Linked DNA regions of Homo sapiens. The protein of the gene in region 4 purifies or fractionates together with the protein of the main gene of each other region. This does not show direct contact. Each region holds a gene or a part of one and is shown on either strand. Other genes may lie near its edges.

Evidence for each region. The genes of interacting proteins can lie anywhere in the genome.
Region 1: the proteins of PEMT (region 4) and PLCD1 purify together in Homo sapiens (affinity purification with mass spectrometry; one large-scale study listed by BioGRID and IntAct). This does not show direct contact.
Region 2: the proteins of PEMT (region 4) and CRYBG1 purify together in Homo sapiens (affinity purification with mass spectrometry; one large-scale study listed by BioGRID and IntAct). This does not show direct contact.
Region 3: the proteins of PEMT (region 4) and FABP7 purify together in Homo sapiens (affinity purification with mass spectrometry; one large-scale study listed by BioGRID and IntAct). This does not show direct contact.

Annotation. Positions count from the first base shown.
Region 1 is NC_000003.12:38,006,996-38,009,819, forward strand, and holds the end of PLCD1 (1-phosphatidylinositol 4,5-bisphosphate phosphodiesterase delta-1), read right to left. Parts: intron 2,817-2,824; coding exon 2,658-2,816; intron 2,437-2,657; coding exon 2,277-2,436; intron 2,164-2,276; coding exon 2,047-2,163; intron 1,642-2,046; coding exon 1,463-1,641; intron 1,373-1,462; coding exon 1,240-1,372; intron 1,169-1,239; coding exon 1,019-1,168; intron 864-1,018; coding exon 778-863; 3' UTR 501-777; downstream 1-500. Other genes in the region: VILL (villin-like protein), read left to right, coding at 1-60. UniProt on the Homo sapiens protein: The production of the second messenger molecules diacylglycerol (DAG) and inositol 1,4,5-trisphosphate (IP3) is mediated by activated phosphatidylinositol-specific phospholipase C enzymes. Essential for trophoblast and placental development.
Region 2 is NC_000006.12:106,517,717-106,521,216, forward strand, and holds part of CRYBG1 (beta/gamma crystallin domain-containing protein 1), read left to right. Parts: intron 1-1,414; coding exon 1,415-3,500. UniProt on the Homo sapiens protein: May function as suppressor of malignant melanoma. It may exert its effects through interactions with the cytoskeleton.
Region 3 is NC_000006.12:122,778,532-122,782,515, forward strand, and holds the start of FABP7 (fatty acid-binding protein, brain), read left to right. Parts: upstream 1-1,184; 5' UTR 1,185-1,263; coding exon 1,264-1,336; intron 1,337-1,759; coding exon 1,760-1,932; coding exon of another isoform or gene 1,933-1,980; exon of another isoform or gene 1,981-2,561; coding exon 2,562-2,663; coding exon of another isoform or gene 2,664-2,816; exon of another isoform or gene 2,817-3,984. UniProt on the Homo sapiens protein: B-FABP could be involved in the transport of a so far unknown hydrophobic ligand with potential morphogenic activity during CNS development.
Region 4 is NC_000017.11:17,508,386-17,511,708, reverse strand, and holds part of PEMT (phosphatidylethanolamine N-methyltransferase), read left to right. Parts: intron 1-2,163; coding exon 2,164-2,275; intron 2,276-3,323. UniProt on the Homo sapiens protein: Catalyzes the three sequential steps of the methylation pathway for the biosynthesis of phosphatidylcholine, a critical and essential component for membrane structure.

The DNA of each region.
Region 1 (2,824 bases), on a different chromosome or scaffold from region 4:
TTCTACAGCATGGCCACGTGGAGGCAGCGGCAGGAGAAAAAGCAGCTGGGCTTCTTCTGAACCCAAGCCCTCTCGACTGCCCCTATCCCCTGGACCCCAACATACCTACAATGCTGGGGAGGCCCTGCTTCCACTCCCCTCAGAGGCTTTTGGTCATCCTCTGCGTGTCAGTAAAAGCAGGCAGCCCATACGAGCTGTGGTATGCGTGCTTTCAAGCCCGGGCCACTCAGCAGGTCCACCTCTCAGGGGAAGGGGCCTCCAGGGCTGGCGGGTGTGAGCTCTCAGTGCCACCCCACAGAGGGGTTTATTTCTCGTTGGTCTCTCCAGATACCCCTGCCCTACTCAACTATGTGCAAGGAAGGTGGAGAGTGAGGTGCTAGGGCTCCAGCACTCTAGGACATGGGGACACACACACACACACACACACACACACACACACACACACACACACACGCTTCACAGGGGATTTTTCTGGCATCCAGGTAAAGAGACCACAAGGCTTAATCTTATCGTGATTTTTATAAAAATCCTTGACCACTCGCTGGCCGGAGGGTGGAGAGGGCTGCAGTGTTATTCCTAACGGAATGAAGGACAGCTCCAGGGACTGGGCTAGCTCCTGGTCCCCAGGGAGGCAGCAGCAGACACTATGTTAGGGCTGAAGGCAATTTGGGGGCCTAGCTCTGAGCAAGAGGCTGGGAGCAGCCACACCAGCCCTGTCCCCACATGTGGACAGAGGGCCCAGCCCACTCAGGGGGGACCCCACTGGCTTCCTCCAGCCTAGTCCTGGAGGGAGATCTTCACAAAGAGGGTGGCTGATGGATGCTGGTCCCCGTTCTTAGACATGAGGTGGACATGGCGGTATCCTGGTGGGTGGACAGGCAGGAGGGAACACAGAGAGAGTTCTGGTCATTCGGCGGCGGAGGGGGGGTGGATGCGTCAAGGGACAGCCAGCCCCAGCCCAAGAGACGCCAGGCCCTGCTTCCCACCACCTTGGCCATCCCCTTCTCTTGACACTCACCTTGCTTGAGGCTGTTCAAGGGGATGGTACTCTGGCCAATGAAGTCATTCTTGGAGGAGGCATCATAATCTTCCACCAAGAAGCGGATGAGGGCAAGGTCAGGCACAACTACCTCAAACGCAAACTCCGTGTCCCACCATGGGTTGAAACCTAGGGGGACAGGCACCATATCAGCAGCATGGACACCAGCCCTAGTAGCCCAGCCCAGGCCCAGCACCTACCATTGTTGGTGATGACAGCAGTCTGGCGGCTGGCCACGTCCCGGCTCACGCCATGGATCTCCACTGTCACTTTGGGGTCCACAATTGAATTCTTATTCTTGTTGACTTTTGGCAGCTGCTGCCCCGAAATGACCTGAGGAAAGGCAGAGGACAATGGACAGTTCAGGAGTGGTAGCGGGGAAGGGAGGTCCGTGGGCACCTGTCCCTCCTAGGTCCAGCGTACCCTGATGTTGAGCCGCTTCCGTGCCCACCAGGGCCCCTGAGCCAGGGCGCGGGGGTTAAAGGTGCCGTTGGGGTCTCGCAGGAAGGCGGGCTTCAGCACGTACCCACAGGCCCCGTTGTCCTGGAAGCGGCCCTGGTACACGTCCATCTCTGGCCCAGGTGTCTGGAAATTCAGGGCCACTACAGGCAGGACAGAGCAGTCACAGGCTGTGGGCTGGCCCTGGGGCCCTAGAGCACAGCCTGCTCAGGGTACACTAAGGCCTAGGGTCACATGGTGAGTTAGCAGGGCCCAGCATCACTCCAATGCCTGCTGCCCTCCTGCCACCCTCAGTGACCCACCATGCTAACCACACCTTCCATTCCTGGTGTGAGAATTCAAAGGACTAGTGTGCTAATGAGGTTTCAGACACTGTGACATGCTGGTGGGCAGATATTTCCAGACTGATATTACCAGCTCCACAAGCCCCTGCATTTGACCCTGCTTGGGTCCTCAGAGCTCCACTGCATGGCCTTCGAGGCTCCAGGCCCCCGGCCTTGGGACTGAAACCCTCCTCCAGGCCTCCTCCAGCCCCAGCCAGCCCATACCGATCTGGCAGCCCCCATTCCACATCTCCACGGGGCTGTAGTTGGAGGAGTCTGTTCTCCATCCAGCCGGGTAGATTCTGCTCAGGTGCCCCACGTTGTGGCGGACAAAGCCGTTTCCTGAGGGGAGGTGTGGTTCGGTCAGCAGTGGAGGCCTCCTGGTGAGGCCCAAGCCCTGCCCTGCCAATTCTCTCTGTAACAGAGCAGGGGAGTGGTGGGGAGCCAGGCCTCACCTGATTCTTGGAGCAGTCGAAGGGCACGGTTCTCAGAGAAGGACGCCATCTCGTAGAAGGCCTGTCCAGGGGTGCCAGGACTGGAGAAGCCCCCAAAGTGGACACTCTTGCAGTAAATGACCATGTCAGAGAGCTCCTGTGCTAGCCTGAGCTTGTCCTCCTGGGGAACACGGGGAGGCCCGGGTTAGATTCAGTGGTTGGGGTAGGGTAGGCACTGAGAAAGCCAGAAACCCAGGCGCAGAGAGACAGAGGGAGACAGACAGAGAGAGCGGGGCAGAGGGTCTGAGTGGCAGCCACAGAGAACTGAGACAAGGCAGACCTCCCACGGGTGAGGGGATGGGGAAGGCCCGGGCTGCCCCACCCCACAGCTCCCCCTCAAACCTTGGGCTTGTGCTGCACACGGCTCCTCACTGCCTCATCCTCCATCTCAGCAGCCTCGTCTTCGTCTGACACCACAGTGGCCTCAGGGCCACCCTCCCCTCCAGGGGGCAGGAGCCCCCCGAGCTTCTTCCCCTTCAGCAGGATCTTCCCCTTCAGTTGCTAGGTGG
Region 2 (3,500 bases), on a different chromosome or scaffold from region 4:
TTCTAAACCATCTCATTTTTTTTAAAGATGAAGAAGTTAGAGTCCAGAGAGGTAAAGTAACTTGACCAGGTTCACACAGATAATTAGCATAAAAGCCAGGACCAGAGCCAGAGAATGCCAAACAGAGCACATTTTGTTTCTCTGAAAGAAAGCACTGTGTACATTCAAAGACTTATTATTTCCACTGGGGGTAATTATACCCAAGAAATGTGACGGAGAGAGGGGAGACTCTCTTGCCCAAGAAGTGGTGACAAAACCAACAGTTGCATAATTGATAAGTAAATGACGGTACATCCATATGATGGACTTCCATGCAGCATTAAGACAACTTTTCAAACAAATTTTTTGGTAATCTGAAAAATGTTAACTATAAGGTTAAGTCATTTTATTTCTTGAAAAAGCAAGATATCAAATTATATGAACAGAATAATCTCAATTCTATTCAAAATATTTAATTATGCATATAAAAAGATTAGAAACATATAAAAATGTTAACAGGGATATTGTCTGACTGGTAGGATTATCAGTGATTTTTAAATATTATCCAAAGTTGCTATAGTGAACACACTTATAATCAGAGAAAATCTTATGGGGGAAGGATGAGATGAATAAAATATCCAAAGCGGTCAATAGTAGATGAATTTTTAAAATCTATCCTTTTGAGATAATATTTAAAAAGTTATGCTAAAATAAAAATACATAATTGATGTTGGAGCATGAGAATGCATTAAATATTTAAATTTCTTCTAATGTTGTTCAGGCCTTAAGATGTCTTCCAACTCTAGTGCCAAGCACTGTGCATACATGCTACGTACTCAATAAATTAGTTCATCCCTCATCCCTAGAGTTTCTTGGCTATATAATCTTCCGATCCCTCATATGCAAGCAAAACACCCATTAAAAATAGTTGGTAGTGTACTTAGGACTATTTAAAAATAGTTTCATTAAAAAACAAATGTGGCAGAGAATGGTGGCTCATGCCTGTAATCCCAGCACTTGGGGAGGCCAAGATGGGAGGATTGCTTGAAGCCAGGAGTTTGAGACCAGCCTGGGTGACATAGACCCCATTCTACAAAAAAATAAAAATAAAAAAATTAGTTGGGTGTGTGATATGTGCCTGTAGTCCCAGCTACCTGGGAGGCTGAAGCAGGAGGATTGCCTGAGCCCAGGAGTTCGAGGCTGCAGCAATCTATGATCACACTGCTGTACTCCAGTCTTGGCGACAGAGCAAGACCTTGTCTTAAAAACACATGTGTGCGCACACACACACACACATACACACACACACACACCACACTCCAAATGTTATATATCAGGGAGATGTTGGCTTTTCATAGTTTTATAATTAATTGGTTTGTGTGTTCACTTTTTAAAACTAGGTCAATAACTTTATCTTCCTGCTTTTTCCTCACAGCCCTGCCAAGCCCAAACATGTGGAACTAAATCTTAAAACCCCTAAGAATCTTGACAGTTTGGGAAATGAGCACAATCCATTTAGCCAGCCAGTTCACAAAGGCAACACTGCCACCAAAATCTCCTTATTTGAAAACAAACGGACAAACAGTAGCCCAAGACACACTGACATTCGAGGCCAAAGGAATACTCCTGCCTCTAGTAAAACGTTTGTTGGGAGGGCAAAGCTGAATTTAGCCAAAAAAGCCAAAGAAATGGAGCAACCTGAAAAGAAAGTAATGCCAAACAGTCCCCAGAATGGTGTGCTGGTTAAGGAAACTGCTATAGAAACCAAAGTTACCGTCTCGGAAGAAGAGATTCTGCCAGCAACCAGAGGAATGAATGGAGACTCTTCTGAGAATCAAGCTCTTGGTCCTCAGCCTAACCAAGATGATAAAGCAGATGTACAAACAGATGCTGGCTGCCTTTCAGAACCAGTGGCTTCTGCTCTGATTCCTGTCAAGGATCATAAGCTCTTAGAGAAGGAGGACTCAGAGGCTGCAGACAGCAAAAGCCTTGTACTTGAAAATGTAACCGATACAGCACAAGACATCCCCACCACTGTGGATACCAAAGATTTACCTCCAACGGCCATGCCAAAGCCACAGCATACATTTTCTGACTCACAGTCCCCTGCTGAGTCATCTCCTGGGCCTTCTCTTTCACTGTCTGCACCCGCTCCTGGGGATGTTCCCAAAGACACATGTGTTCAATCACCCATAAGCAGTTTCCCATGCACTGATCTAAAAGTGTCAGAAAACCATAAAGGATGTGTTTTGCCTGTGTCTCGTCAGAACAATGAGAAAATGCCACTTTTAGAACTTGGAGGAGAAACAACCCCTCCTTTGTCCACAGAGCGTAGTCCAGAAGCTGTGGGAAGTGAGTGTCCATCCAGAGTCCTCGTCCAGGTCAGGTCCTTCGTGCTCCCCGTGGAGAGCACCCAGGATGTGAGCTCCCAGGTCATCCCAGAGAGCTCTGAAGTTAGAGAAGTGCAGTTGCCAACTTGTCACAGTAATGAACCTGAAGTGGTTTCCGTTGCAAGTTGTGCTCCCCCACAAGAGGAAGTACTGGGCAATGAACACTCTCATTGCACAGCAGAGCTCGCGGCAAAATCTGGCCCACAAGTCATACCGCCAGCATCAGAGAAAACTCTGCCTATTCAGGCTCAAAGTCAGGGCAGCAGAACACCCCTGATGGCTGAATCCAGTCCCACCAACTCTCCCAGCAGCGGAAATCACTTAGCCACTCCTCAAAGGCCAGATCAGACTGTTACAAATGGCCAGGATAGCCCTGCCAGCCTTTTGAACATTTCTGCTGGTAGTGATGATAGTGTATTTGATTCTTCTTCTGATATGGAAAAATTCACTGAAATTATAAAACAGATGGATAGCGCAGTTTGTATGCCCATGAAAAGAAAGAAGGCCAGGATGCCAAACTCTCCTGCTCCTCACTTTGCCATGCCTCCTATTCACGAAGACCATTTAGAAAAGGTGTTTGATCCCAAAGTGTTTACCTTTGGTTTGGGGAAGAAGAAGGAAAGTCAGCCAGAAATGTCACCGGCTTTACATTTGATGCAGAACCTTGACACAAAATCCAAACTGAGACCCAAACGTGCATCTGCTGAACAGAGCGTCCTCTTCAAGTCCCTGCACACCAACACTAATGGGAACAGTGAGCCTCTGGTGATGCCGGAAATCAATGACAAAGAGAACAGGGACGTCACAAATGGTGGCATTAAGAGATCGAGACTAGAAAAAAGTGCACTTTTCTCAAGCTTGTTATCTTCTTTACCACAAGACAAAATCTTTTCTCCTTCTGTGACATCAGTCAACACTATGACCACGGCTTTCAGTACTTCTCAGAACGGTTCCCTATCTCAGTCTTCAGTGTCACAGCCCACGACTGAGGGTGCCCCGCCCTGTGGTTTGAACAAAGAACAGTCAAATCTTCTGCCCGACAACTCCTTAAAGGTCTTCAATTTCAACTCGTCAAGTACATCACACTCCAGTTTGAAAAGTCCAAGCCACATGGAAAAATACCCGCAAAAA
Region 3 (3,984 bases), on a different chromosome or scaffold from region 4:
AATATCAAGTCGGATTCTCCTGCTCTGTCCCCAGGAGAGGCAGGTAAGCTGCTTTCATTGCTGGTCAGCACTAGTAAGTCAGGAAGGAATCTCTTTGGGTGAAGGGGAATTTCAGAGACTTCCTTTAAATACTCTACTTAGAACCCTCAAGGTATTTGCCATTCTTGGGGAACCCTGAGCCAGGGCAAACTGAAACCAAAGCCCTTCTGATTCCTACCGCTCCTCCAGTTCCTGCCCTTCCCCATCACTAACTCCCAACAAATGTACACAGATTGTATTTGTGTAGATGTGGCCTCAGGAAATCAAAAGGTCCTAGAATGCAGGTAATTTAAAGTCTTACTAAATAATCTTCTGTCCAGTTTTTCCACATGGGTTCTATAATCTATTCAAGGAGATCGGGGGGAAAAGCATTCTTTTATTTATTTTTGTACCTCATTAGTAAGTCCTAACCATACTCTTCCTTAGGTCCCTTTTCCAACTCAGTCTCGTTCTCACATTTTTAGAAAGGACAACGGGATCTTTAAATTCTCTCGGTTTGTGTTGGGAAAGGACCCAAATTAGTGTGCTTCCTCATTGACAGTCAGAGTAGCCTTCAAGCAGTATATCCAGGGAAGGCATTTACACCTCCTCCCCGCCCTCTTTTTCAGTTTGGCCTACTCTAGCCTGCATTTCGCTCTCCCTGTAACTATGAGAGAAAATAACACACACTATTCACTCTCCTTTGTCTGCAAAGTCTGGCATTTCAGTGGTTTTCTTTAAGGGGGGTCCTCATTTGTGACCAGCTTTGTCATTAACGGAAATCAATCTGAATGCCCCATTGTGCATCTTTTTTCTTTCCTTGCAGTCTGAGATTGCCTTTGCCAAGTTTTTTCTCACCGAACCTGAAAGCCCTTCTCTCATTTTCCCGTTCCCTGCCTCCAGCCCCATTGAATCCCTGCCGAGCTTTCTCAGGCATAAGGGCTGTAGTGTGAGGATTGGGAGGAACTCGACCTACTCCGCTAACCCAGTGGCCTGAGCCAATCACAAAGAGGATTGGAGCCTCACTCGAGCGCTCCTTCCCTTCTCCTCTCTCTGTGACAGCCTCTTGGAAAGAGGGACACTGGAGGGGTGTGTTTGCAATTTAAATCACTGGATTTTTGCCCACCCTCTTTCCAAATAAGAAGGCAGGAGCTGCTTGCTGAGGTGTAAAGGGTCTTCTGAGCTGCAGTGGCAATTAGACCAGAAGATCCCCGCTCCTGTCTCTAAAGAGGGGAAAGGGCAAGGATGGTGGAGGCTTTCTGTGCTACCTGGAAGCTGACCAACAGTCAGAACTTTGATGAGTACATGAAGGCTCTAGGTAGGTAACAATAAGACCGGCTGTTCTCTTCTCAACGTGCAGCTTTAGATATTTGCAGATTCCATTTTTCACTCATCAGGTCAGCAAGAGGCAAAGACAGATCACATTGCCCTGATCAGATGCTAGGCTATGCATTTTCCACTGAATGGATTTTTAATGTGGCACTTGCTTGCCTTCTTACCCAGGGCCAATAAAAACAGAACATTTGCTATTCCGTGGAGAATATGAAGCTTCTCTGACTTTTTTGGTTTTCTTCTGCATCCACTTATTATCACAGTAGTGTTTTACATGATTAATGGGCTAATCATGTTCTAATGAAACTTACACTTTAGAACGTGGATTCCAGAATCAGAAAGCAGATTCTTGCTTTGTGAGTTATTTTGGAAGTCGCTGCAGACTGTACTGTTCCCTTTGCTATTTTAGGCGTGGGCTTTGCCACTAGGCAGGTGGGAAATGTGACCAAACCAACGGTAATTATCAGTCAAGAAGGAGACAAAGTGGTCATCAGGACTCTCAGCACATTCAAGAACACGGAGATTAGTTTCCAGCTGGGAGAAGAGTTTGATGAAACCACTGCAGATGATAGAAACTGTAAGGTGAGAAACTGCTTCTTCTTCAGAGTGGGGATGGGGAGAGGGGAATAAAGATAAAGATTTCCAATGCATGTTTTTTTTAAGATGTTGGAAAGTGTAGAATATTTTCAGTATTTCAATCCAAGGAGAAATACACCAAAGTTAGTTTAATGTGCATATGTTATATTTTGAACAATGGGTACTTGCTATAGCATAAATCTCAGTTGTATTTGTCTCTTACCATATACTGTTCACATTTTATATCAAACTTGTATTTCAGAAAATATTTAATAAGGTTTGTTTGAAAGAGAGATTGCATTTTGTTTAATTCCCCAGGTTGCCTCAGATTGACTAAATAGACAGTTTGCCTCATTCTAAGGCTTTCTTTAGAGGGACGACTAGCTGCAAAGCACTGGTTTAGGATTTTTGTTTTTAATATATTAAATTTTTGTATTTAGATGTATACTTTTTAATCAAATTATGAATTCAAATTTACATAATAGAAAATCTAGAAGTAATAGAAATAACAATAGGATAATTAACTGATCATGATTTATTCAATTATACAACTCTTTCAAAAATCACATCGTCTTCCGTATCAGAAATCTGAATTGTATTTATTGCTATGTTCTGCATTTTGTTGTTGGTCTCAGTCTGTTGTTAGCCTGGATGGAGACAAACTTGTTCACATACAGAAATGGGATGGCAAAGAAACAAATTTTGTAAGAGAAATTAAGGATGGCAAAATGGTTATGGTAAGTAATGACAATTCTCCATTCTTCCTTGTTTTTTTCTCCTCTCCGCACACCTCTCACCTCCTTCCTTCTTCTTCCCTCCTCCTTCCATTCTTCCTCCTTCCTTCCTTCTTTAATAATACATCACTGGCAAGGTTCTTTAACTATATGTAAAACAGGGGAAACAAAAAGATCCCAGTTAATTTTCTTCTTCAGCTCAACTTCTTTGATTGTAGAAAAAGAGAAAAATTCATGTGTAGTTAAAAAAATAAAAGTTGCCATTGATTTGCCTAAAACTGTGTCAAAAGATTTTTTGTAGGATAACTATGGATGTCTCTCAAATAAAATTTAATATAAAGCCCATAATCACTGAAATATATAAAGATAATTGCTATTATAAGAGAATCTCAGACAGATGACTTTATAGCTCCTGTAATAAGAGATCTTTAAACAGTTTATATTTTAATTTATAAAGTTACACAAGTTCTGGGCAGATAATTTAGAATATAACAGAAAAGTATAACAAAAAAATTAAAATCCCCTCTGATTTCTCATCAGTGATAACCCTTTTTTTTTTTTTTTTTTGAGATAAAGTCTTGCTGTGTCACCCAGACTGGAGTGCAGGGGGTGCATTCTTGGCTCACTGCAACCTCTGCTTCATGGGCTCAAGCGATTCTACAACCTCAGCCTCCTAAGTAGCTGGGACCACAGGTGCAAGCCACCAACGCCGGGCTAATTTTTTTGTATTTTTGTAGAGATGGGATTTCGCCATGTTGCCCAGGCTGGCCTACAGCTCTTGAGCTCAAAGTGATGCTCCCGCCTGCTGCCTCGGCCTCCCAGAGTGCTGGGATTACAGGCCTGAGCCAAGGCTCCCAGCCCCCAAAGAGAACCATTTTGATGTTACTTCTTTCCAGTTTTTTTCTCGAATGCATAATATGCCTTTTAAACATATATATTCAATACTAGGTAGACATGAAAAATATTTTTTTCAATCAGCCTCTTCTTACTTACTAGGAATTATCTGTAAAAGAGGATTTATTAGTGTCCTAAGGCTGCCACAACAAAGTACCACAAACTTGGTGGCTTAAAACAACAGAAATGAATTTTCTCAGTTCTGAAAGCTGGACGCCTGAGATCAAGGCGACCCTAGTGTTGCCATCCTTCTGCGGGCCCCCTCCCTTGCTTCTTCCTACTTCCCGGATGGCTCCTGGCAATCATTGAGGTTGTTGGGCTTACAGTTGTTATTACTCTGATCCATTTCTGACTCCATCTTTACAAGACTTTTTCCTCTGTTTTTGTCCTAAATTGATCAAATATAAAATAATTAACAAATAATTTATCT
Region 4 (3,323 bases):
TTGGTCCAGCTGGCCGCATTGCCCGCTCTCCGTCATGGGTGGGAAGGCCCACGTCTTCCTCCCCATCAGCCCTGGCCAGTGCAGGAGCTTGGAAGTCACTCGGCTTCAGTGGCCTCAGTAGCCTCCTGGGACCAACGGTGTCCTGAGGAGCTCCCGGGCCTGCCTGCCATCCCCATCCTCAGATGCCGGCTACAGCTCCTTGGGCCCAGCCCCCAGGGCACCGTGGGCTGTCACAGGGCACTCCAAGTTCTCAAGGAGCTTGTGCCTGCCAGTAGGGGTCCCCCCGAGGGAGGAAGTGGCATCTGTGGGTGCAGCATTCTGGATCGCCCATGGCCAGGCCTCTCTGGGACTGTGGGGGGCACCCACAGGCAGTTCAGTGCTTCCTGCTCAGGCAGACGCTGTAGGGAGTTTGGTCCAGGAAGGGGGACAGCAGCCAGGAGCGTCTGGATCTGCCAGGTGGGGGCAGGTGCGGGCAGGTAGGAAAGAGAAAAAAGCCTTGGTGCAAGGAGAGGGAGGTTGAGGGCAGAGTAGCTGGCAGCTGGAGGTGGGGGGCAGCTGGACTGGCCGCACAGGTGCTGTCGGTTGGGACAGGGCAGGAGGATGAGCCGAGGCCTTGAAGGCCATCCAAGGGGCTGAGGCTCCATCCCCAGAGAGGTGGGAGCCATAGGGGGGGTCCCAGCAAGGAAGAGGTTGGACCGATGGAGCCAGGATCAGAGGTGGGGCTCAGGAGGAGCTGTGGAGGGGCCCTTCCAGGATGTGAGGGCGGTGAGGGCCCCATGGGAAGGGGGACTCCGGGCTGTGCAATCAGGTCCTGTGGGAGACCAGCGGCGGGGGCCCTCCAGTGGCCAGTGCTCGGGTGGATCTGGACAGGGAGGGCTGCAGAGGCAGCGTAAGGAGAGCCAGGATGGTGGGTGGAGCCCCTCAGCAGTGGAAGAACAAGCTGGGGGTCCTGGACAGTCAGAGGGAGGGAAGGAGCCTGCAAACACCAGTGGCCACAGCCTCCTGGCGGCCCTGCCAGCAGACATGGCCTAGAAACACCGAGGACCAGCAGCGCGGTATGTAGGCAAAGGTGGTCACTTCCTGCTGTGACTCAGCTCGAATTGGGTTTCTGTGCCATCTACGCACACCCTGTGCCCCACTTCCTGCTTCCTGGGAAGAAAGAACTTTCCAGTGGTCCTGGGCCCTGCCCCGTGTCCCCAGATGGTGATGAAGCTCCTGGACCCCTCCTGCCCATGCTGCCCATTGTCGGGCAGCTGCCCTACTTTCCGCCTTGGATGAAGCTCCATTGTCCTCTGGGAGGAGAGACAAATGAGGGGTTTCTGGGGACAGAAGGCTGGGAGGAACGAAGCCACACCCTTTATGGAGCGGTTACTCTGTGTCCAGTGGGACTGTCCTCTGTGGGCCTGGGACAGACACTGTGACTGTGACCCCGGCCACTCCCTTATGGCTCAGAGCAGCTCTGCCGGGGGACGCCTTGTGGCTGTGCGGCTGACGGGTGCATGGCTGGCCTGTCTGGAACAGGCTGTTCAATAGTCACCCTCTCTCCACTGGGTCTAGCTCCTCTGGGCAGCTGAGTGAGAAAACAATACCAGAGCTGACCTCCCAGAGCAACGGGAGGCGTGCTGTGGCCAGGCCCTGGTGCCAGAGCCACACAGCCTGGGGTGTGGAGCAGAGCAGCCCTTAGCAACCAGCTGAGGCCCCTAGAGGGAGAGGAACTCACCAGAGCGAGGAAGAGTGGGAGGTAGGACAGGAAGAGGAAGGGTCTGCATAAAGAGGCGCCATGAGCAGAGGGCGAAGGGCCTGAGGAGGAAAGGCGCTCTCTGTACAGAGAGCAGGGAAAGGCATCGCAGGGGAGGGAACAGCGTGTGCAGAGCCAGGAAGAAGAGGAAGGCCAGCATGGCTGGGTCAGAGTGCTCGAGAAGAGGAGCAGTGGGGCAGGGGCGGTGCTCAGCACCTTAGTCCTTAGGCCCCACGCCCTCTGCTGTCTGCGTGCCTGTTGGGTCCCTCTGACTCTGCCCATTGTTGAACTCTCTGAAGTCTCCTGGAGGGCAGGGCCCTGTCTCACCTGCAGGTCTCGCCACAGCCCGCTCTGGGGCCTCCCTCAGTGATGGTGTGGCCAGGGCTGATGAATAGCCGAGGGACCCTGCCTTGCCTCATCCACAGGTGATTACTTCGGGATCCTCAAGGAGGCGAGAGTGACCGTGTTCCCCTTCAACATCCTGGACAACCCCATGTACTGGGGAAGCACAGCCAACTACCTGGGCTGGGCCATCATGTGAGTACCAGGCTTGCCACCCCTCTGCCCTGCTGGCCACCTCCCGGAGAGGAGCTGGTGCAGCTCAGGACGCGGGGGCCAGGGCCCCTGGAGAGAGAGAAAGGAAGAACGTGTCATTTGTGGGGGCCTAGGCGCCCTGGTTCTCCCTTTCTCAGAAGCGTCTTATCTATGGTAACAGAAACAACATCCCAGAACAGGGTGGTCAGCTTCTCCAAAGAGGGCTGGAGTGTGGAGGCTCAAAGGCTGCAGGCAGGTCACAGCTGCTCAGCCCTGGTCCTGCCACACAAAACAGCTGCAGACGCAGGAAAATGGATGCGCGTCTTTGGCGCCAGCACAGCTCCACTTACAGACACTGAAGCCTAAATTTCAGATTCTTTTCACGTGTCATGAAACATTCTTTTTGATCCTTTTGCTTTTAACCGTTTAAAAATGTAACAGGCGTTCTTGGCCCCTAGGCCGTAGTTTGCGGACCCTTGTGCGGGGACATCAGGGCTGGGACCACCCGACCCATCTTCCCCGCAGGAGGGGTTGGCCAGAGCCGCCAGGGCCCAGCTCACCCGCAGCTGACAGAACTCCCTGTGCCCCAATAGCCTCTGCCCATGTGGCAGATACCCCTTCCCACAGAGGGGGCCCCGTGCCATGAGGGAAGCCTAGAACTGCTGTCGGCCTCAGCCAGGTACGGGTACTGACAAGGTATGGAGATGTGCTCCCCCGGCGGGTCAGAGGACCTGCGGTCAAGGATGGCACAGCGGGCGCTGCCCTCGGCTTCATACCCAGCCCCCACCCCAGCAGTTCTAGTTTAGCCATTTTCTTCCATAGAAGGTTTTTTGGCAGACAGTGTTCCACTGCTTTTGTTTAACACTTGAAAACCACTGGCCTAGAATTTACAGGTTCTCCACAAGACCTGAGGATCCCAAAGGAGTGAATCGTAAACAGTGAATGTCAAGCGCAAGATGTTGCCTCCTGGCTCCCACCTTCAGCAGTTGGGACCGTAGCAGCGGGGGTTGGAGACAGCAGAAGCTAGAAGGGGGGCTGTGGGTCTGGCTGG